Homo sapiens: one gene and its partners. The protein of the gene in region 6 purifies or fractionates together with the protein of the main gene of each other region. This does not show direct contact. Each region holds a gene or a part of one and is shown on either strand. Other genes may lie near its edges. The genes, in order: RSF1, EOGT, MOV10, MSANTD2, WDR11 and SHCBP1.

Region 1 (3,500 bases), on a different chromosome or scaffold from region 6:
AAGGATGGCCAGAGTCTGATACTCATATCTATGGTTCTTCTCTAATAAGATGACACCTATCAATTTGCCAATTACATAAAGCATTCATTTCTTGTAGCGGTTGAGCCTCTATTTACTCACTTAATAGGGATAAGCATACTCTATAACAACATCAACTACTGTTAATCTGTAAAAACTACTCAACACTGACTGTGGTCTAAATGAGAGTTAACTTGTATTCTTCTCTCTCCAACAGCTGGGCATCTGAGGGAAATGTTCACAGTTTATTGAGAATGATTTCCAAGAAACCCTATGAAGATGAAGGTTTAGGAGTGGAAACATTTGACAACCAAGGAGTCATCACAATCCTACTAGGCATCTGATATGAAGTTAACGTATCAATCAGTATGTATTTTCTCAGATGTGCTTTCTATGAGAAAAATTTAGTCAGAAATAAGTCTTAAGAACAGAATTTTAAGAACTCTTAACTCCAGAAGTCATAAGAATTTGTTGAGCTGGCCAGCGTGCTGGCTCACGCCTGTAATCCCAGCACTTTGGGAGGCTGAGGTGGGCAGATCACCTGAGGTCGGGAGTTTGAGACCAGCCTGGCCAACATGGAGAAACTCCCTCTCTACTAAAAATACAAAATTAGCCAGGCATGGTGGCACATGCCTGTAATCCCAGCTACTTGGGAGGCTGAGGTAGGAGAATCGCTTGAACCCGGGACACAGAGGTTGCAGTGAGCCGAGATGGTGCCATTGCACTCCAGCATGAGCAACAAGAAAAACAAAAAATAATTTATTGAGCTACCATATGGTTACAGATTATTTTTACCAGAGTCTCTACTATTCTCCTCAGATTCCTCCTCTTCATCATCATCGGAATATTTTTTCTTTGGGGTCTTTCTTCGCAAACGCCTGCTCTGCCTCATTGGCCGAGAGGGGTGTCGCCTCAGTCTACGGCTACAAAAGTCAGTGTCACTGTCATCATTAGATGGCGGATCTTCTTCACTTTCATCTGGGTTTTCATCAGACACAACAAACTCATCTTGAGATCTGTCCAAGAGAAATCAGATAAAATACAATGGTATTTAGAAGAGTGAACCCATTTTTAAGAGTTCTGAGTTCAAATTCTGGTGAGCCCAGTGAATCATTAAGTATAGTGCAACATATCTGGATAATTGTATCAAATGCCCTATTTATAAAATGGGGAAAATGTTTTGCCACCTATCCTCTTAGGAGGGGTTGTAAAGATGAATTAATGTTGATTTCTGTACTGCTTTGACCTCTTGGGATGTCCCCCATGTTAAATTCGACATATTCAAAAGTGAATTCATTATTTCCCAATCTACTTCTCTCTTCTGTTCCCTGGCCTGGTATTTGGCACCATCACTCATCCGGTAACTCCAACCAGAAACGTGGTATTTATCCTAACTTTCCCCTTTTCATTTCTCATATCCAATAAATTAATAATTTCTCTAGAGTCTACCTCTTAAAAGATAATCTCTCAAACCTGATCTCTTCTGTTTTCAGCTTTTCATACTCACCTTAACTACAAAAGCAACTCCACAAATAGTTTCTCTAATATCTGGTCTCATTTCCCCTCAATCTATCCTCCAAATGAATGCCAGGATGAATCTTTCTGAAGCATAAATCTCATATTAATTTAGTGTTTAAAACCCTTCACTGGTTTTGTATAATTTTCAGGATAAAGTCAAAACACTTATGCATGACAAATAAAACACTCCCTAATCTGGCTCTTTTTATCACTTGACCACATCTCCAGTAGGGCACTCTCTACTTCATCCCCTTATTCCTGCTATCCAGAGCCAACAGGAGTTTCCCAAACATTCTATGACATTTTACGGCTTGCTGTCTTGGACATGTGACTTCTATGCTTAGAATACCTTTTTCTTATCCTGCTTTTAGTCTCATACTTGTTGATTCCAAATACTCATTCTTCAAATTTCAGATCAAGCTTTACTTCTACTTTAAGGTTTACTCTTTGGATTAAGCCAACTTTCCTCTGTAGCCTAATTTATCTTTCCCTGTATTTTAGTAGCAGTTATGCAGAATGACTTTTTTTTTTTTTTGTGGTTTATATACTTGTTTCCTCTTCTAATAATCTGAAAGGAGAAACTCTGCAGTATTGTTTCAATTCCAACTCTGCAAAGAAGCCTTTCTTGATCTTCTATACTGGATTACCAGTCCCAAGTCCAACTTCTATGAGTCATGAGAGGATAATATCTTATTTATTTTTCACATAGGACTGGAAACCCCTCATGGACCTGGCAGAAGGTGGCACAGAGGTACAGAGAAAGCTCTCAACAAATGAAAGTTTAATTGTAGTTAGTAAAATTTAAATACAATTTTGAATGTTAAACAACCATAAATCTATTTTCTGTTCTAAACTTTAAAAATGGGCCAAAATTAGTATTCTTGAATCTGCTTTAAATATCCTGAAAATAAACAGAGGTTGTCTATGTACATGAAGAAGAAAACCCTCATCACAGCATGGGCAAGCCTCTCTGCTAGCCCAGTCCTGTTCCTGCTGGTATCTAGGGATCGGGGCCTAGTAGGAGACCACACACCCATCACTGATCTTGAATTCATCCTCGCTCTCTTCTTCATCCAGGTTGCTATCACTGTCCAGATCATTTAATCGCCGGCGTTTCTTCCTTCGAGCAGCAGCTGCCCTCTGGGGTCGTTTATTTTCTTTTCTTTCTTCATCCAAAATAGTAGAGATGTCTTTCCCACGATGACCTGTGATGGTGGAGATATCTTTTCCTCGGCCAACTCCTGAATTTGGGGGAGGGAAGTTCGGGGAGAGAAAAATATGTGTTTATTAAAAGCTTCCCTTTAATTTCTAGAGACAGTCCTTATTCATGCTTAGCAGCTCTTCATTTCTTTATTTTCTTCCAACAAATATGCAGTTTTCTTATGACTTCAGCTGACAGAGGTCTCAGAGTTTTAGCATTCGTTTACCCTACTGAAGAGAAGTTTACTATGTAGGGAACCTCGTTTTTTAAATTTTTATATAATTCACACACCGCAATATTCACCCTCTTAAAGTGTACAATTCAGACATTTTTAGTATAGTCACAAAGTTGTGCAACCATCACCACTACCTAACTCCAGAACATTTTCATCACCCAAAAAAGAAACCTCATACCTATGAGCAGTCACTCAAGAATCTCTTCTTGAAAGCTGTCTTTTGGACAAGGCTTTAGAAAGAGGCCAATAGAGTTTTTAAAAACAGTGTTTGCAGGACAGAAAAAGTGAGAATTCAGCAGCAAAAATGTAAATAAAACATACATCTCTGGAAAAGCCTTAAACAATCTACTTATTAATCTTTTCCAGAGTTTTCATAATAACTAAGTAGAAACCAGAATGTTCCATATTGGAGCATTGGCTAATAGTGCTTTAATTAAATTACCTTCAAGTTCTTCTATTTTAATGCCACTTACTAAAGACTATGAAATTAAGAAACCAATTTTTAATAGGTTAACTTAAAAATTTTTG
Region 2 (3,500 bases), on a different chromosome or scaffold from region 6:
AGCTTTTTGAATTTAAAAAGTTTGTATTTTAAAATAATTTTAGACTCATAGAAGTTTAAAAATAGTATGTATTATACCCAAGACTGACTAACTTACAAAGGAAAGAGGTTTAATGGACTCATGGTTCCTCATGGCTGGGGAGGCCTCACAATCATGGTAGAAGGCAAAGGAGGAACAAAGGCACGTCTTACATGACAGCAGACAAGAGAGCGTGTGCAGAGGGAACTGCCCTTTATAAAACTATCAGATCTTGAGAACAGCGCAGGAAAAACCCACCCCCATGATTCAGTTACCTCCCACCGGGTGCCTCCCATGATGGGAGCTACAATTCAAGATGAGATCTGGGTGGAGACACAGCCAAACCATATCATACTACAAGGAGAACTTGTACGTTGTCTAATTCCCTGAGCTTCCTCTAATGATAATATCTCATATAACCATGGCACAATGATCACAACCATGAAATTGACATTGGTACAGTAGTATTAACTTGTGCAGGTTTTACCAGCAATTACCTGTACTCATTAAAATTTTATCACTTGTGTAGGTGCGGGTATGTAGGTAGGGAGAGAGAGGGGGAGGAGGACGGGGAGGGCGACCACCACAATCAGGATGCAGAATTGTTCCATCATCCCAAAGAAACTCTCCTGCTACTCCTGTATAGTCACATAGGTTACTTACATAATGTTAATTTGTAAGGTCAAATGTCCATACCAAGGCCAGGAATGGCGGCTCATGCCTATAATCACAGCACTTTGGGAGGCCAAGGCAGAAGTATTACTTGAAGCCAGGAGTTCAAGACCAGCCTGAGCAACATGATGAGACCTCATCTCTAAAAAAGAAAAATAAAAAATAAAAATAAATTAGCTGGGCGAGATGGCATGCCCCTGTAATCCTAGCTACTTGGGAGGCTGAGGCGGGAGGACTGCTTGAGCTCAGGAGGTCGAGGCTGCAGTGAGCTATGATTGCACCACTGCACTCCAGCCTGGGCGATGGATCAAGACCCTGTCTCAAAAAAAAAAAGAAATTCATGCTGAGCAAACCTTTTTTTTTTTTGTCCTTAAAGAGGCCTCACTGCCTGGCTGCAGATCATTCAGAATAATGATCTACCACACATTTATCTGGGATTTTGCAGTCTGCAATGCAATGTCTCAAGTCACTTAGCAGACTTTTACAAGAGGTAGTTTCTATATTCAAGTGGGCTTTTTGATTCCTGGTACTTTCTGATATTTGATTCCACATGGTAGTTGCTCAGGGCATAATTGTATTAGTTGCTTATTGCTGTGTGACAGGCTATTCCAAAGTGTACCCTAGGGTATATTTATATTTATTACCTATTGTTGTATAACAAATGACTCTAAAATTTAGCAGCTTAAAATACAAACATTTATTATCTCACAGTACTTCTGAGGGTCAGGGTTTGGGAGCAGCTTGGCTGAGTTGGCCAGGGCTGTAGCCATCTCTAGACTCAACCTGGGCCTGGAGAATCTGCTGCTAAACTCACTCAGGTTGTTGTAAGCCTCGGCTCCTTTTGGCACCATCTCGGCTCACTGCAACCTCTGCCTCCCAGGTTCAAGCGATTCTCCTGCTTCGGGCTCCTGAAAATGGCTGGGACTAAAGGCGCTCGCCACTACGCCCAGCTAATTTTTGTATTTTTAGTAGAGATGGGGTTTCACCGTGTTGACCAGGATGGTCTTGATCTCCTGACCTCGTGATCTGACTGCCTCTGCCTCCCAAAGTGCTGGGATTACAGGTTTGAGCCACTGCACCCGGTCTGTTCCTTGTCTTAACATTAAAATTGATATCAACCTATATAAAAGTCAGTAAGTTTTAGAAGTTACAGGTGTCCATAGGAGTGTCTGTACCATTTAGAGGTAAAATCTGCCTAATGAACAGATCCTAAGTTACAGTGTTCTAATAGGAAGTTTGGGAGAATCAGTTTGAAGTCATGTCCCAATTCATAATTTCAGGTTTGCTGAGCTACAAAGCTATACTCAGCTCAACTTCAGACCTATAGAAGATGCTAAATGTGACATTGTCATTGAAAAACCAACATATTTCATGAAATTAGATGCAGGTGAGAAATAACTTTTTCTGTTATTTGTGTATTTGTTAATGAGATATTATTCCTTTTTTTGGATGTAGTAATTCTCTCTGAATTTTTTGGAAGCAGTATGACAAACAGTAGATTTGTTTTTTTTGCTTTCTTCTCTGAAGAAGTAGTTGAACTAATTTGAACTTCCCATTATTTTATAACTTGGGCATTTTAGAAGAAACTTTCACATTTATATCAAAGGACTTAACCAAAATCAAAGGACGAGAGGTGAAGGCATATTTATGCCTTTTGTAACTAAATTTACCTCATCTGGTTTCTCTAATCACTTGGTTTAGATTGTCTTTCATTAAGATGTTTAAAATCAAAAGCTAAGCCGGGCGCGGTGGCTCACACCTGTAATCCCAGCACTGTGGGAGGCCGAGGCAGGCAGATCACGAGGTCAGGAGATCGAGACCATCCTGGCCAACATGGTGAAACCTCGTCTCTACTAAAAAAACACAAAAAATTAGCTGGGCGTGGTGGCAGGCACCTATAGTCCCAGCTACTCGGGAGGTTGAAGCGGGGGAATCGCTTGAACCCAGGAGGCAGAGGTTGCAGTGAGCCAAGATCGTGCCGCTGCACTCCAGCCTGGTGACAGAGCAAGACTCCGTCTTAAAAAAAAAAAAAAAAAATCAAAAGCCATGTGTATAGTATGGGTGGGAAAGAAGTGTCCATGACCTGCGCTGACAAACTTTCTGTATCATTTCCATGACTAAAGTGAACTTAAAATTCTTCTGGAAGTTACCAGTGTAATTTATTCTTGACATAAAATTAAAATTATTTTATCATTTATACTTATAGCCTCTTTCTCAGCTTGCAAGCAGAGCTTTAACTTTGCGAACTAGTTACACTGGGGAGGAGAAACACAGATTGTACTATATTATCTCTTTCATTATGAGAGACAGGGATTACTGTGCTAGATCATATCAAAATTCATGAGAGGTTGGGTTTACAGTGAAATATAGAGAGCCTCTGTCACAAATATTTCAGAATTAGTATAATTTATTGATCATAGTTTTAATGTGCTCTGCCTTCTGAAGTCATAGTTCTTATATTACAAAGTATTAAATTCAGAAATCAGACAAGTTTAGGTTTTTGAAATAAAAGCGAGTAAAAATGCTATGTTCCAGGTTTTGACTCGTTTTTAAAACATGCAAATTAAAAAGGGGCAAAGAAAACACTGATCCGTCTGTAAAAGTGGCAAATATGTGTGAGCTATTAAATTTATGCAGATACTTATACAATAAAGTATATAAAGTGAGAATAATAGGCTAGAGTAGACATGTCTCATTTCTTTCCTATATTCATAACTCTACTTTTTTCTTCTAATTTATGCTGTCTTCCAATTTTACTTTTCTTTCTTTAGAGACAGGTCTTGCTCTGTTGCCCAGGCTGGAGTACAGTG
Region 3 (3,500 bases), on a different chromosome or scaffold from region 6:
ATATCAAGAGGTACCTGAGTACAGGGCGGAATGTGGAAATGGAGGTTGGATGCCCATAAGGGGAGGGGTCCACAATAAAAATGATATGTGATAATGATCCCACGTGTGTAAACTTATGTAGGTGTGATATAAGCATGCCTGCAAAAAGAGATAAATGAACCGGGTGCAGTAGCTCACGCCTGTAATCCCAGCACTTTGGGAGGTCAAGGCAGGTGATCACCTGAGGTTAGGAATTCAAGACCAGCCTGACCAATATGGTGAAACCTCGTCTCTACTAAAAATACAAAAATTAGCCAGGCATGGTGGTTCACGCCTGTAATCCCACCTACGTGGGAGGCTGAGGCAGGAGAATTGCTTGAACCCGAGAGGTGGAGGTTGCAGTGTGCTGAGATCGTGCCACTGCACTCCAGCCTAAGTGACAGAGAGAGATTTAAAAAAAAAAAAAAAAAAAGAGATAAATGAAAAGGTGATCACCAAAAGTTTTTTTTTTTTTTTTTTTTTTTGAGACGGAGTCTCACTCTGTCGCCCAGGCTGGAGTGCAGTGGTACAATCTCGGCTCACTGCAAGCTCCGCCTCCCGGGTTCAGGCCATTCTCCTGCCTCAGCCTCCTGAGTAGCTGGGACTACAGGCGCCCGCCACCACGCCCAGCTAATTTTTTGTATTTTTAGTAGAGATGGGGTTTCACCGTGTTAGCCAGGATGGTCTCGATCTCCTGACCTCGTGATCCGCCCACCTCTGCCTCCCAAAGTGCTGGGATTACAGGCGTGAGCCACCGCGCCCGGCCCAAAAGTATTTTTAAAACATTTAAACAAGTATCTAACATAAAACATTAAAGCCCTTAATTCCCTTGCTTCCAACTACTTGCTTGATTAGGAGCAATTAATTAAACCCACTATTTGATGTATGTTTTTCCTGATTTTTTTCTATGCATATAAAACACAATAATGAGATGATACATGCTACACATACTATTCTGCAGCAGGCGTCTTCCCACCATGGATCTTCTCCCATAACAATGCTTTACAGAACCACCATGACCTTTTGAATGGCTACAAAAGATAGCATGTATGAATGCATCATGGTGTGTTTTTTTCTCTAGTGATAGACAAGCTGCCTGAAATTTCTGGCTACTCCTAATGTTACAATAACTATCCTTGCACACAAACCCTTGTACTTGTAGGCAAGTCTAATGGGATAAATTCCTTAAAGTACAACACCTGGGTCAAAGAGAATGAACCTTTACAACTTTGATAAGTTCTGCCAAATTGTCCTTTAAACAGGTTGTACAAATTTATGTTCTCACTAACAAGAGTTAGAAAATGCCCTTTTCCCAAAGCTCTAACATCAGAAATTTTCAATGTTTTAAATTTTTGACAATTTGATTACAAAAACTCCTATCTTTTTAAACTGTGCATTTCTCTGATCACCAATATAGTCAAGGATCTTTCCTTCTTTTATTAGTCATTTATATTTCTTCTGTGAGCTGCCTGATCATACCCCTTGCTCAATTTTCTAGGTTCCAGTTAACTGTTCTCCCTACCTCTGGCTTCATACCCCTACACTAGGCCACCCCCTATATCTGCAGAATTGTCATCAAACACAAATCTGATCTTGTTCCCTCAATTTACAACTCCATAGTCCACAAAATTAAGTCTTTAATATGGCACCTTCCAAGATCCTCCATAGTAACAACGATAATGCAAATACAATAACATCAACAGAAAACGTTTCCTGAATGCATTATCTCATTCAATCCTCAAAACAACCCTTTGAGGTAGTAATTATTATCATCCCATTTTAGAGAAAAAGAAATTGAGGTACACATCCTCAACCACACTTGGCCTCTTGTCAATCCATCCTTATTTCAGCCATTCCCAACTACTTGTATCACTGTGCCCCTCTGCAGACTTCTGTGCTGTGGACATCCTTAGCCTGCACTGCCCTGCCTTAGGCCGCCCCTGCTGTTTGTTGGGTGAACAATGGCTAATCTTTTTAGACCCAGTTCAGGAAAGGCCAAAAGCTAGAGGAATGGTATTTCAGCACATATGATCAGATTTGGAAGTGATCTTAAAGAGACATCTAGTTTCACAATCTATAGACTATGGATTCCAACTCCCATTAGCGGGTCAAAGCCAGGGTTTTTATAAAATTGAAATAAAATAGAATAAAAAATATCAGAGAGCAGGGAGTGAAACTATGTATTGTTTCAAGGGCAGGCATTGTTTTGTGAAGGTTGTGTATGCCAGGTCCCAAAGTAAAATGTGTTTTTTACTGTGGGTAGAGGTCCAACCACCAAGCCACTCTCCACGCCAGAAGCCAGAATGATCTTTCTAAATCTGATTACGTCAGACTCTTACTTTGAAATTTTCTGTGTTTTCCTATTTCCATTAAGATTAAAGACAAAACAAAACACCTCACAATGCCTACCCAGGGCCCTGCTGGTCTCCCGTTCTTCTGAGGTCATCCCAAGCCTTTGAAGGTGCTGTTCCTGCCTGTACACTCTACCCTTGCCCTTTACACCTTCTAAGTCCCATTAATCCTTCAAGATTCTACTCAAATATCACTTTCCCCAAGAAACCTCTGCCTAAGTTTCTTGATCTAGTCTAGGTTGCTAGACTAGGACAGATCTCCAAATTATATACTCTCAATGCATACTGGACTTTTCTGTACAAGCACTCATCACAACCGTAATTAAATAATTATCTAACTGCTGCCTCCTTCCTTAGTTAGTTGGGTTCCTTTTGTATATTTCTAGCAACTCACTTTTGCTTTGCCATTCATAGGAAGCACTCAGCCAGTACTTGTAGAAGAATGAGTCTCCTGTCCAAAGCAAGAATCATCTTCTCTCAGAAACCTTTTCGTGACATCAGTCCTTACCCCATACAATGGACTCCTAATCATCATCGCACTAATGAGGGGTACCACTTAACAAAGCCAGTGTAATATGCTAGCCACACAAATGCTTTGCCTAGGACAACTCATTTTGGTCTCTCACAACCCCGAGAGAAAGGTACTATTTTACATACTCTTACAGTTGGGGAAATGGAAAATTTAGAGAGTTGTTCAAAGTTAAATGCAACCACTAAATGGCAGGGCTATCTAAACACCATTACTAGCACCTATACTACTGTATTGCATTTGTTTGTCTACACATATCTGCTGCTCTTTACTAGATTATATTCTTTGGAGGCAAGGACCAAGGCACAGGCACACAGTAGAGCCTCATTAACTATATTTGCTAAATGAATAAAGGTAGGTGGGAAAAGGCAAGAGTTCAGAGCAGAGCACTTTATAACATCATAAAATAACCTAGCTGGAGAGACCTATCCCCTCTCAGTGTAGGAATCTCCTAGAATTCCTAAAGAGTGTGACTTGCTATACCCCCCGCTATATGGCCCATTCTCTTGTTAGTTAACTCTAGTTGCTAGTTCACTTAGATTCTGCAAGCATTTATTGAGCATCTACTACATACAAAGCTCTATGCTGGGGACTGCAGACAG
Region 4 (3,500 bases), on a different chromosome or scaffold from region 6:
CAGAGGAGACAAAAGCACTTGGTCAATTTTATGATGTCTGATTGTGGTGCTTATGAGGCTAAGACATAGACCATATTTCTGCATAGGTCGATGCTTTAAAGGAAAATTATCTTTCATAGCTACCATCTTTCCCTGCCCTCCTTTGAAATGTTTTATTGATCTTACAGAGGACTATGCTAAGGAGTTGGGATGGAGAGCAGAGATTTTTGTCTATTATGCTCAATGAAGTATCCCAATGCCTGACATATAGTAGGCACTTGAGAAACGTGTGTTGAATAAATGAGCAGACTAGGGGATTAGCCAGGTTCAGCTAATCCCACCTATACCTACAGAGAAAAAGAAATCCCATGCCCAAATCACGTTATTTTTTTCAGCATTGTCATGGCACTAATGCTATAGTCAGACCCTGCAAAGAACCATTTTAAATAAACTCTTGCACTGGAAAATAAATGGCCTACCCAGATCTTGTTCAGAATCTCTCACCCTGAGAGCTAAAACCTGGAGGAGAGGCAGCACAGGCTGGATATTTCCTCAGAGTCTGTCAGTTTCCTGCCCTGCTGATATGAGCCTGAAGCTGATTTGGGCTCAAGATTCAAACCAGCATTTCAAAGCTCTGGAGCACAATGAAAACTAGACTCAGTTATTTAAACAATTCCTGAGAACTGTCTGTTAGATTTCCTGGTTTTTGAAGTTCCAATCACCAGAAAAGTTTAAGTGGTTTGAGATTGGTGACATGAAATCCATAAAATTTGAGTTCATTCCTAGTTATACCAACTGGGCCTCCCTTGAAGGTCCTGAATGATTATAAGGAAGAGATAGGACACTTTAATGAAAAAGCCAGTGACTTTTTTGGAGAATAAAGGTTTGAAGGTATACATTTGTAATAACTCTTTTTTTTTGTTTGTTTGTTTTTTTTTTTTTGGAGACAGGATCTTGCTCTGTCACCCAGGCTGGAATGCATGACTCACTGGAGCTTTGACCTCCCAGACTCAAGTAACCCCCCACCTCAGCCTTCTGAGTAGCTGGGACTACAGGCATATGCCACTATACCCAGTGAATTTTAAAAATTTTTGTGGAGATGAGAGTCTAGCTATGTTGCCCAGACTGGTTTTTAATTCCTGGGCTCAAGCAATCCTCCCGCCTTGGCCGCCCAGGATGCTGGGATTACAGACATGAGCCACCGCGCTTTGCCTTGTAATAACTCACATTTTTTTTTCGAGACAGAGTCTTACTCTGTTATCCAGGCTGGAGTGCAGTGGCACCATCTCGGCTCACTGCAACCTTTGCCTTTTGGGTTCAAGCAATTCTTGTGCCTCAGCCTCCCGAGTAGCTGGGATTACAGGTGTGTGCCACCACGCCCAGCTAATTTTTTGGTTTTTTTTTTTTTTTTTGAGACAGAGTCTTGCACCTGCGTGTCCTGGGTTCAAGCAATTCTCTTGCCTCAGCCTCCCAAGTAGCTGGGATTACAGGCACCCGCTACCATCCCTGGCTAATTTTTTGTATTTTTAGTAGAGACAGGGTTTCACTATGTTGGCCAGGCTGGGCTTGAACTCCTGACCTCGTGATCTGCCTGCACTGGCATCCCAAAGTGCTGCAATTACCGGCATGAGCCACTGCACCCAGCCTAATTTTTGTATTTTTAGTAGAGACAGGGTTTCACCATGTTGGACAGGCTGCTCTCAAACTCCTGACCTCAAGCGATCCACCCACCTTGGCCTCCCAAAGTGCTGGGATTAAAGGCGTGAGCATGAGTCACCACGCCCAACTTACTTTTTACAACATTAATCAGTTTCCCTTCCTTTGGTACACTTTGATGTCACACTCCTAAAAGACAACTACTTCCCAATAAGAAATGGCCTTAAACTTACTGATGTGGGCGATTAGCTTCTTTTTTGAGGAATGAAATAATGGCTACAATTTGGGGGAAAAACTCCTCATCCCTGAACTCTCACCCTCTTTCCAGACATGGAATCAGATGACAATGGGAATTCTTTGATTCCAAAGAGAGACTCTGAAAAAGAAATGAGCATTTACAAAGGGGAGGTGGTAGTGGTGTCTTGCTGAATAAAAACAACTAATGTGGCCGGACACTGTGGCTCACGCCTGTAATCCCAACACTTTGGGAGGCCTAGACAGGTGGATTACTTGAGGTCAGGAGTTCGAGATCAACCTGGCCAACACGGCAAAACCCCATCTCTACTAAAAATACGAAAATTAGCCAGGCATGGTGACGCGCCTGTAGTCCCACCTACTCGGGCTGGAATTACAGGTGCTCACAGTGAGCCAAGATTGCACCACTGCGCTCCAGCCTGGGTGATGGAGTAAGACTCTGTCTCAAACAAACAAACAAAACAAAAAACAACTAATGTTTTCTTGTTGTGCTGCCTGTTACCTATCACAGCCCTTTTTGCCTCTTCTCTACCATCTCTCAGACATCAAGATCACATGTGTGGGATGAAGCACTCAAGAATAAGTGGGTGCTATCAATGCTCCAAGGTTAACAGGTAAAAAAAATGAATGGCGTTCCTTACTTTCCCCATAAATTTTCGGTCAGTATATTCTCCTCAGTAATTGTATTTAATCAGGGACTCACTTAAAGCTATTAAAAAGAACCACAAATATGATGTCACTGGTAATTCCAAGAACTATGATGTCCTTGCACAAAAGATAATGCTAAACTCGGGGAAGATCAAATTGTATGGACCAGGGAGGACTCTGTCCCTGGACTTTCTTAGTCTTTCCTCTAGCAACTGCTTTCTTCTCCAAATGTATAATAGGTCATCTAAGAGCTTTCTTTTTGATTCCCAAAATACTTCAGGTGTCCCTCTGGTCCGCCTATCATTTCACCTAACCTCAGATAAACTCAGGTTCCTGTGACTCATCTTTGTGCCTTAATTAAACATCCAGATGTCCACATCCACACACAGGCAAATACCAAAAACACATCTGTTTTCCTGTAACACATTTATTTCTTCTATACAAAATTCTCAACATTTTAGATAATCACTGGAAGGGTTAAGCTAAGATACGAAAGAACGTATAGACATCTGGCTGGGTGCGGTGGCTCGCGCCTGTAATCCCAGCACTTTGGGAGGCTGAGGTGGGCGGATCACCAGGTCAGGAGATCGAGATAATCCTGGCTAACACGATGAAACCCCATCTCTACTAAATGTACAAAAAATTAGCCGGGCGTGGTGGCGGGCGCCTGTAGTCCCAGCTACGCTGGAGGCTGAGGCAGGAGAATGGCGTGAACCTGGGAGGCAGAGCTTGCAGTGAGCAGAGATTGCACCACTGCACACCAGCCTGGGTGACAGAGCGAGAGCGAGATTCCGTCTCAAAAAAAAAAAAAAAAAAAAAAAAAAAAGAACGTATAGACATCACAGTTCCTGGAATTACCAGTGATGCTATGTTTGTGATGCTTTCTAATAGCTTTAAGTGAGTCCCTGATTAAATCTAAAGAATGAATAGACATGCCTCCTTGGTGAATGGCCGGAACTTTC
Region 5 (3,500 bases), on a different chromosome or scaffold from region 6:
CTGCCTCAGCCCCCTAAGTAGCTGGGACCACAAGCACATGCCACTGCACCTGGCTAATTCTTATATTTTTAGTAGAGACAGGGTTTCACTATGTTGGCCAGGCTGGTCTCGAACTCCTGACCTCAAGTGATCCTCCCGCCTCGGCCTCCAAAAGTGTTGGGATTACAGGCGTGAGTCACTGCGCCTGGCCAATGCTCTTTCTAGTGCATCACTTATTTAGCGTTTCAACAACAACAAAAAAACCCTCCTAAATAATATCGTTTTCAATTATATTATGGTAGAATAAATAATAAAACAGAAAATCCTTTATAAACCATAGCCACAACTGTAAAAAAATTAGATGTCCAAATTGCTTGGCATATTTACAAAGCCTTATAATTTCAAGTAGCATAAAATTTGAAATCACAAACTCTCATTCTTCCTTTAATACATACTGGCCTCATAATTAAATAACTTTGAACACTTTATCTCCAAAAATGATTTTTTGAAAGAATCCCCAACATAAAAATAATTCATGTCAAAAAGTTAAAATAATCTTTTCTAATACTGCTCAGTTACTTTATTCCTTCAGTAAATATTTACTACAAAACAGGCATGCACAAGGTACTGTGCTGAGTGCTGGGAAAGACAAAATAGAATCAAACACTGTACCACCCTTGTGATGCTTACAATTGATGAGATGAAACAGAAGAAAAAAACCCACAATTAAAATATGCTGATAACTGTTAGGAAAAACAAAAGAAGAGCATTTAAATTAGACTTGGGAGATTAAAGAAAACAACATCTGAGTTGAATTTTGAATTAGGAGTAGCAGACAGAAAGGAAGCATGTACTTCATTCCAAGCTGAGGAACCAGCAAACAGCAAGGCCCTGAGTTGGCATGGCATAGCTCAGCATCGGCTCTAGGTCCAAAATCCAGATGCCTAATGTCATTGCTTTCATTTACATCAGTCTCTCACGAATGAACGTTTTCTATTTCTAACAACTATAATGCAAACCCGTGCTACTTCAGGCACTTTTCTACCTAAGTATTTTAAACCCCTCTGATTTATTTAGGAAAGAATGATTCCATGTTCTAGTTTTCTCAAGTATTAACTTTTTTGACTTTAAAATAATTACAAGTGAGTGATTCTATTAATTTTGCCCTTCAGAAAGAATACTTAACATGGAGTTAGAGGGGAAAAAAGCTTACCAATCATGTTATCTAAGGAAAGGTCTGGGAGTTTATTCTGTAGCACTCCTACAGGAATTCCACAGAAAGACACTGGTGAATATAAAGGTGACACACCAGAACTACTGCAAAGACATAATAATTAGAAGGTTTTACATACTTAAAATCTGCATTACGTATTAGGAATTCAAAGTATTAAGTCCAGATTATGGCATTCTATCTATTTTTATATTATTCATTCATCTTACCCATAGGTGAAATAGCTCTAGCAGATTTACATAATTCCCTAATAATCTAAAGCCTTAATTATTACCTTAAAAATATTTTTATAGAAAACCAGCCCTCCTATTTTTATGATTATGGAAATTTTTTATAAAAGGAAACAGGAAACAAAAAACAAAACCATGATCCTGTTGATTCATTTACCTGTTCCGTGAATTTCGATTACAAACTGCAGACTTGAGTTCCCATATCATGACCCTGCCATCACTCACTACGAGGGCGGCTGCATTCTCATTGACAGGACAGCACACCATACTGAAGGGACGGACGGTTTTTGTCACCCTGATTGCATCACACTGGCTTCGTAAATCATAGGTAAGCTCCTGAACTGGATCTGGATCTTCACATAAAATTGTTTTAAATATCAGAAAGCAGCCATATCGATACCACTACTGTTTGTTTCAATTTAAATAAAACCTCAACTAAATTTGGGCATCACTCCTTCATGAATGCAATGTCAAGCATGGCTTCACTTTTTACAATTACTACTAAATTTTTTCCAAATATAATTTACTTAATGACTGTACTAAGTTTAATTTCCAAAATAACAACTATAATCAAGATATCTTTTTTCAATATTTTAAAATAAAGACGATACTTTGAAAAAGGATCAACAGTGATATATAATTAATGAATAAATTTCCATCATAATTTGTAGTAGTCTATAAGCCTGAAAATAACTGTACTTTCCAAAAGATGTGAAAATCACTTTGATCTTTACACAGTATATAATTTCACAAAAACATTATTTCCATTCTCCAAGATAAGACTGACTTGACAACTGAGACTTAATAACCTCTGTCACTTTACAATGGAAGTTCTTACAGCCAACAAGTCAAGGGGGTATAATAATAAAGGCACACAAGGTTGGACTTGTACTGAAAAAAAAAAAAAATTCCAAAAAATAATATCTACTTGGCTCATGGATATGATCAAGAAACACAAAATTTTACTCTCTTTGATGTATACAGGAGGTGCACTGTTTTAACATCAAGAGATTAATCTTGGGCTTATACTTTTTATGCCTCTTATTATAACCATATTTTAAACTTCCTCAAAGCAAGGAGTATCATTAACTATATACCTTGGCTGGTATTTGCCACATCAAGCTTTATAAAATAATTTTGAAGAAAAATATAACATTATTGTGAGACAGAAACTCACCTGGTTCCTCATTTGAAGTGGTAAAAATGTTATTATAAGATCTTCGAACACGTAAAGTTATACAACCATTTTCATGTAGACAAAATAAACCATCACGCTGAAAGCAGGGTATTACCTTTAAATAGATGATATATTTATTTTTTAAAACACAATAGATTAATAAAGTATATACTGTGAAACTCAAACTCATATTTAGATAATATGGGCAAAAGAAAAAAAAATAGACAAATCCCAAACTTTAAAACTAAATGTACATTTAAAATATCCATTTATAATCCTAAAATAATTTGTCTTTACCCATGTGACTTAAATAGTTCAATAAATATCTCAGGATCAGTCACAATTTCTAGGGTAAATCAAACCAATCAAAAGTGCAGACAAAAAAAACAATCTAAAATAGTGTTGCTAGTCTTTTGATAAATTGAAAAGAGAAAGTGGAGAACTGAAGACAAGACTTATGCAAGATTATGGCCTTCTTTTAATATAACATTCTTAATAATTTTGGGGAATATAATTTATGAATTGTAGATACCTGTAAAAATGGAACTCCTGTGCGTTCTATTGCAATCACACCCACCGTCTGATTCACCTCAAGGTCAAGGATTAAAATCTCTCGAGGATAGAGCAACAACATGTGATTCCTTTTTGAAGGCAGGTATGCCAACTGAAGGCAATCATTGAGAGTTATGAATTCAGCACTGAAAAAAGTAAACATTCACTTGGGTCAAAGACTTCATTTATATCAGACCTAATAAAAGATTTAATTTTGTACTTTACACATAAAAATTGACAATAAAAATGTACAACTATTCCCTGAAGTGACCAACATGGGTTGGCATCCAAAACTTAGATCTCTACTATGTACCAAAATCCAAATGCTAAT
Region 6 (3,500 bases):
CTATGTTTGTCATTGTTTTGAAGTGGGTGATGGCAGGAGGTGCTCCTTATAATTTCCGCTTTGCAAACATTTATTCCTTGATTTACTCGTCACCACAATGACCACTGTCACTCACTGTTTCACCAAAAATTGGAAATTGGGTCAATAATTATCTTGTTTGCATTAATATTTCTTAATGTATATATAGTTCACATTTATTTCAATGTTTAAGATTAGAATTGTTTGGGGTCTTTATTTAGAAGTTTGATGATGTTTTCATGACCAGAAATATGCTGTAGAAACTTTAACTTTTGTTTATATCAGTCAGCCTATGGTAAAATTGGTTTCATTAACATCACAGTTTCTAAGAACCTACCAACAACAGTAACTGAGGACTTTATTACAATGCCTGGCCATGTCTTTTTGTGAGGTTCAGATTGATCAACAGATACAGGTTGTCAACCTGATCCACCCTCTATAAAGTTCTCTTTCCCTAATGGTTGCAGCAGTCATCGATGTTCACTGTCTAGAACCTTTATTTCATTAGTGGTTACAAAATACTGATATTCTATCACTTTCTTCATGTATTGGTTGGAATACTTTTATAAAGAAATTCCTCAGGTGATTCCAAAGTGGTTCCAAGGTTGATTAGGGAAAAAACAGTAGATGGCCTAGGACTGATCCCTGGGTAACTCTGACATTCTAAAGTTTGAGCATGAGAGGAAAAGCTGGCCAAGATGACTGAGAAAGCAAGCCAGTAAGACACCAGCTGAACAGTGGTGTCCCAGAAGCTGAGAGGAGAGGGTGTGAAGAAGATGGGAATGATCAAATACCTAGAATGTCAAGACGTTAAGCAAGATGAGATCAGAGGCAGGATGAGATCAGTGAAACGTTGACTGAATACAAGAACATGGAAGTCTTTGAGCATAATTTCAGAGATGAGGTCAGGGTAGAAGAGTTACTGAGACACCAGGAAGTATAGACTGTGATTATATATAACTCTTTCAAGAAGTTCTGCTGTGAAAAGGAAGCACTGAAAATGAAACCAGCCATCTCCTAATTATTGTAGATTGGGCTGTTAGTCCCTTCACCCTCTAGTGGAGTCTTTTGTTGTTGTTGTTGTTGTTGTTGTAATGAACTTAAGCATGCCTCTACTCGATTGAAAAAACCTCTGCTGGCTCCCTTTTAGCCCTCAAAAAGAAGTCCTGAACGTGGTACTATAAATAGATTCATAATCTGGCCCTATTGCGCCTCTCCTGCCTCAGAGCCGTTGTACCTAAACTCTCAATTTCACAAGCTCTTTCAAACCTCCATGTAACTTGTTAGTCAAGCTGCCAGAAGTGCCTTCCACCTTTTCCACCTGGTAAGCTTATAGTTCTATTCCATGACTCGGCTCCAATATCATCCTCACCAGTACCATGCCAAGCATTTACACATCATTCCCTTCTGTACCTCCCGCAGTGTTGATTCTTTCAAGCCAGAAATGTGGAAGTCAGCCTTGACTTCTCTCACCTCACTTACATCTTCTCATCTCTGATATCCACTCGACCACCAAGTCCAGCCATTGTACTTTCTCAGTAAGCCTCCATCCGTCCTCTCTATATCCCCACTCTAGTCCTCTCTCTTGCGTCTTAACTGGTCTACCAATTCCATCTCCCACCATTTGTTTTCTACACAGAAGCCACAATGAACCCCTGAAAACACAAAGCAGCACTTTAGGGGACTGAGGTGGGAGGACTGCTTGAGCCCAGGAGTTCGAGACCAGCTTGGGCAACACAACGAGACCCCCATCTCTACAGAAAAATGTTGTTAAAAAACTAGCTGGCTAGTGGTGGCACATGCCTATAATCCCAGCTGATCCAGAGGCTGAGGCAAGAGGATGCCTTGAGCCCCACAGTTCGAGCCTGCATTGAATCACATGATTGCACCACTGTACTCCAGCCTAGGCAACAGAATAATACCGTGTTTCCAAAAAAACAAAAACACAAAACACAAAACTAGTCATATTCACCCAAGAATAAAAATCCTTCAGTGGCTTCCCACTGCTCTTAAAGACAAAAATGACTAACCAGCTAACAAATCCCCGCACTGTCTGGCCCCTGCCAGCCTCTCTAATCTCATTTCCTAGGTCTCTCTCAGCACTGTCTGTGTTCCAGCCATGCTGGCCTTTCAGCTCCTTAAACACACTGAGCTCCCAAATCTTTTCCCTTCCCCACCCCTGCCTCCCCTTTCACACAGCTAACCCAAGTTCAAATGTCATTATTCCAGTAAATAACCCTAGAACAGCAACTTGACCTAATTTTAGGACACTCTGTAATTCATCACAGCACTCACTGCTATTTCCAATCATGCAGACATCTGTGCGTGATTATTTCATCAAGGCTCATCTCCCACCTTTAGACTGACAGCTCCCTGATGATGGTGTGTCTCATGCACCAGACATACCCCATCCTTGACTAAGGACCTGGCACTCAAATATTCATTGAATCAACGAACAAATGAAATCCCTCATAATTTGACCTTCACTGGGCACTGATCCAAATCTCAGCCCTCCAAATGAAGTGTAAATTTAACCAGGCTCCTCCTCAAATAATACTACCAAATAACATTCCAGATACTTATTTTTCCACGAACTTCTATGCCCATAGAGATTAGCTCCCTGATTCCTAATTTCCTAAACTTATCAGTTATCACTTTATCTTCAAATGCTTCAATTGACAGATTTTTTTTAATGAGAAAAATAGAAGGGAGTTATTTTGGTTCTGGACAGAAACCGGTTCTTTAGATTCATTCTGCTTGGCCCAATACTGAACATCTAGGGTTAAATGTTCTTGCATACAATTAGAAACTGTCCGTAAGATGTTGGCAGCAGGGCCTGAAACACTCTGCTTCTTTGCAGAGCATTCGAGTTAAGCTCAGCAAAACCACGTTAACTCACTAATGGTATAGAAAATAGAAAGTACTTTTTATACTACAAAACACCAAGCAATGTTATTTACATTATGGTCATTATATATTGCTCAGTCTTCTAGTTCCTGAAGGAATATGGGTCTATTTTTAAATAGCTACAAGTAAGCCTTCTTTGGCGAAGATACAAAATAACTATCTATATCAGGAACTATCCAATAAAAGATTGATCTGAAAAATTGTTGAAATCATACCCACTGATCCAGGTATGGGCTTTCTTTCCCAAGGAAGGGACAAGGGGTCCACTTGTGCAGTGGAAATAACTATGGCAAAAAAGACTCACAGGCAGGAATACATCCCCTAAGGATCCTAGAAGCAGCCTAAGAAAACACTTGCTTTGACCAGACATATGCTTGAAAAAAATGTGTATTCGTCTTTTAGCAGTACACACACCATAGTATATAACCTTCTTCACTGTCTTTCTCTTCTTCTACTTTCTGTACTCTTGTATTGAAATATACCGACCATAAGCCTTAACATCCACAACTTTTAAGTCAGTTTATAAATATATACAAACCCAATTAAGAATCCCCTACTTTTGTTAACATTTGTGA

What was found.
Region 1: the proteins of SHCBP1 (region 6) and RSF1 fractionate together in Homo sapiens (co-fractionation; one large-scale study listed by BioGRID). This does not show direct contact.
Region 2: the proteins of SHCBP1 (region 6) and EOGT purify together in Homo sapiens (affinity purification with western blotting; one study listed by BioGRID). This does not show direct contact.
Region 3: the proteins of SHCBP1 (region 6) and MOV10 purify together in Homo sapiens (affinity purification with mass spectrometry, with the first as the bait; one large-scale study listed by BioGRID). This does not show direct contact.
Region 4: the proteins of SHCBP1 (region 6) and MSANTD2 purify together in Homo sapiens (affinity purification with mass spectrometry, with the first as the bait; one large-scale study listed by BioGRID). This does not show direct contact.
Region 5: the proteins of SHCBP1 (region 6) and WDR11 fractionate together in Homo sapiens (co-fractionation; one large-scale study listed by BioGRID). This does not show direct contact.

Annotation. Positions count from the first base shown.
Region 1 is NC_000011.10:77,674,223-77,677,722, forward strand, and holds part of RSF1 (remodeling and spacing factor 1), read right to left. Parts: intron 2,778-3,500; coding exon 2,570-2,777; intron 1,035-2,569; coding exon 814-1,034; intron 1-813. UniProt on the Homo sapiens protein: Regulatory subunit of the ATP-dependent RSF-1 and RSF-5 ISWI chromatin-remodeling complexes, which form ordered nucleosome arrays on chromatin and facilitate access to DNA during DNA-templated processes such as DNA replication, transcription, and repair.
Region 2 is NC_000003.12:69,000,185-69,003,684, reverse strand, and holds part of EOGT (EGF domain-specific O-linked N-acetylglucosamine transferase isoform a precursor), read left to right. Parts: intron 1-1,970; coding exon 1,971-2,077; intron 2,078-3,500.
Region 3 is NC_000001.11:112,677,659-112,681,158, reverse strand, and holds part of MOV10 (helicase MOV-10), read right to left. Parts: intron 1-3,500.
Region 4 is NC_000011.10:124,769,407-124,772,906, forward strand, and holds part of MSANTD2 (myb/SANT-like DNA-binding domain-containing protein 2), read right to left. Parts: intron 1-3,500.
Region 5 is NC_000010.11:120,864,862-120,868,361, reverse strand, and holds part of WDR11 (WD repeat-containing protein 11), read right to left. Parts: intron 3,316-3,500; coding exon 3,150-3,315; intron 2,733-3,149; coding exon 2,618-2,732; intron 1,794-2,617; coding exon 1,598-1,793; intron 1,297-1,597; coding exon 1,193-1,296; intron 1-1,192. UniProt on the Homo sapiens protein: Involved in the Hedgehog (Hh) signaling pathway, is essential for normal ciliogenesis.
Region 6 is NC_000016.10:46,611,380-46,614,879, forward strand, and holds part of SHCBP1 (SHC SH2 domain-binding protein 1), read right to left. Parts: intron 1-3,500. UniProt on the Homo sapiens protein: May play a role in signaling pathways governing cellular proliferation, cell growth and differentiation. May be a component of a novel signaling pathway downstream of Shc. Acts as a positive regulator of FGF signaling in neural progenitor cells.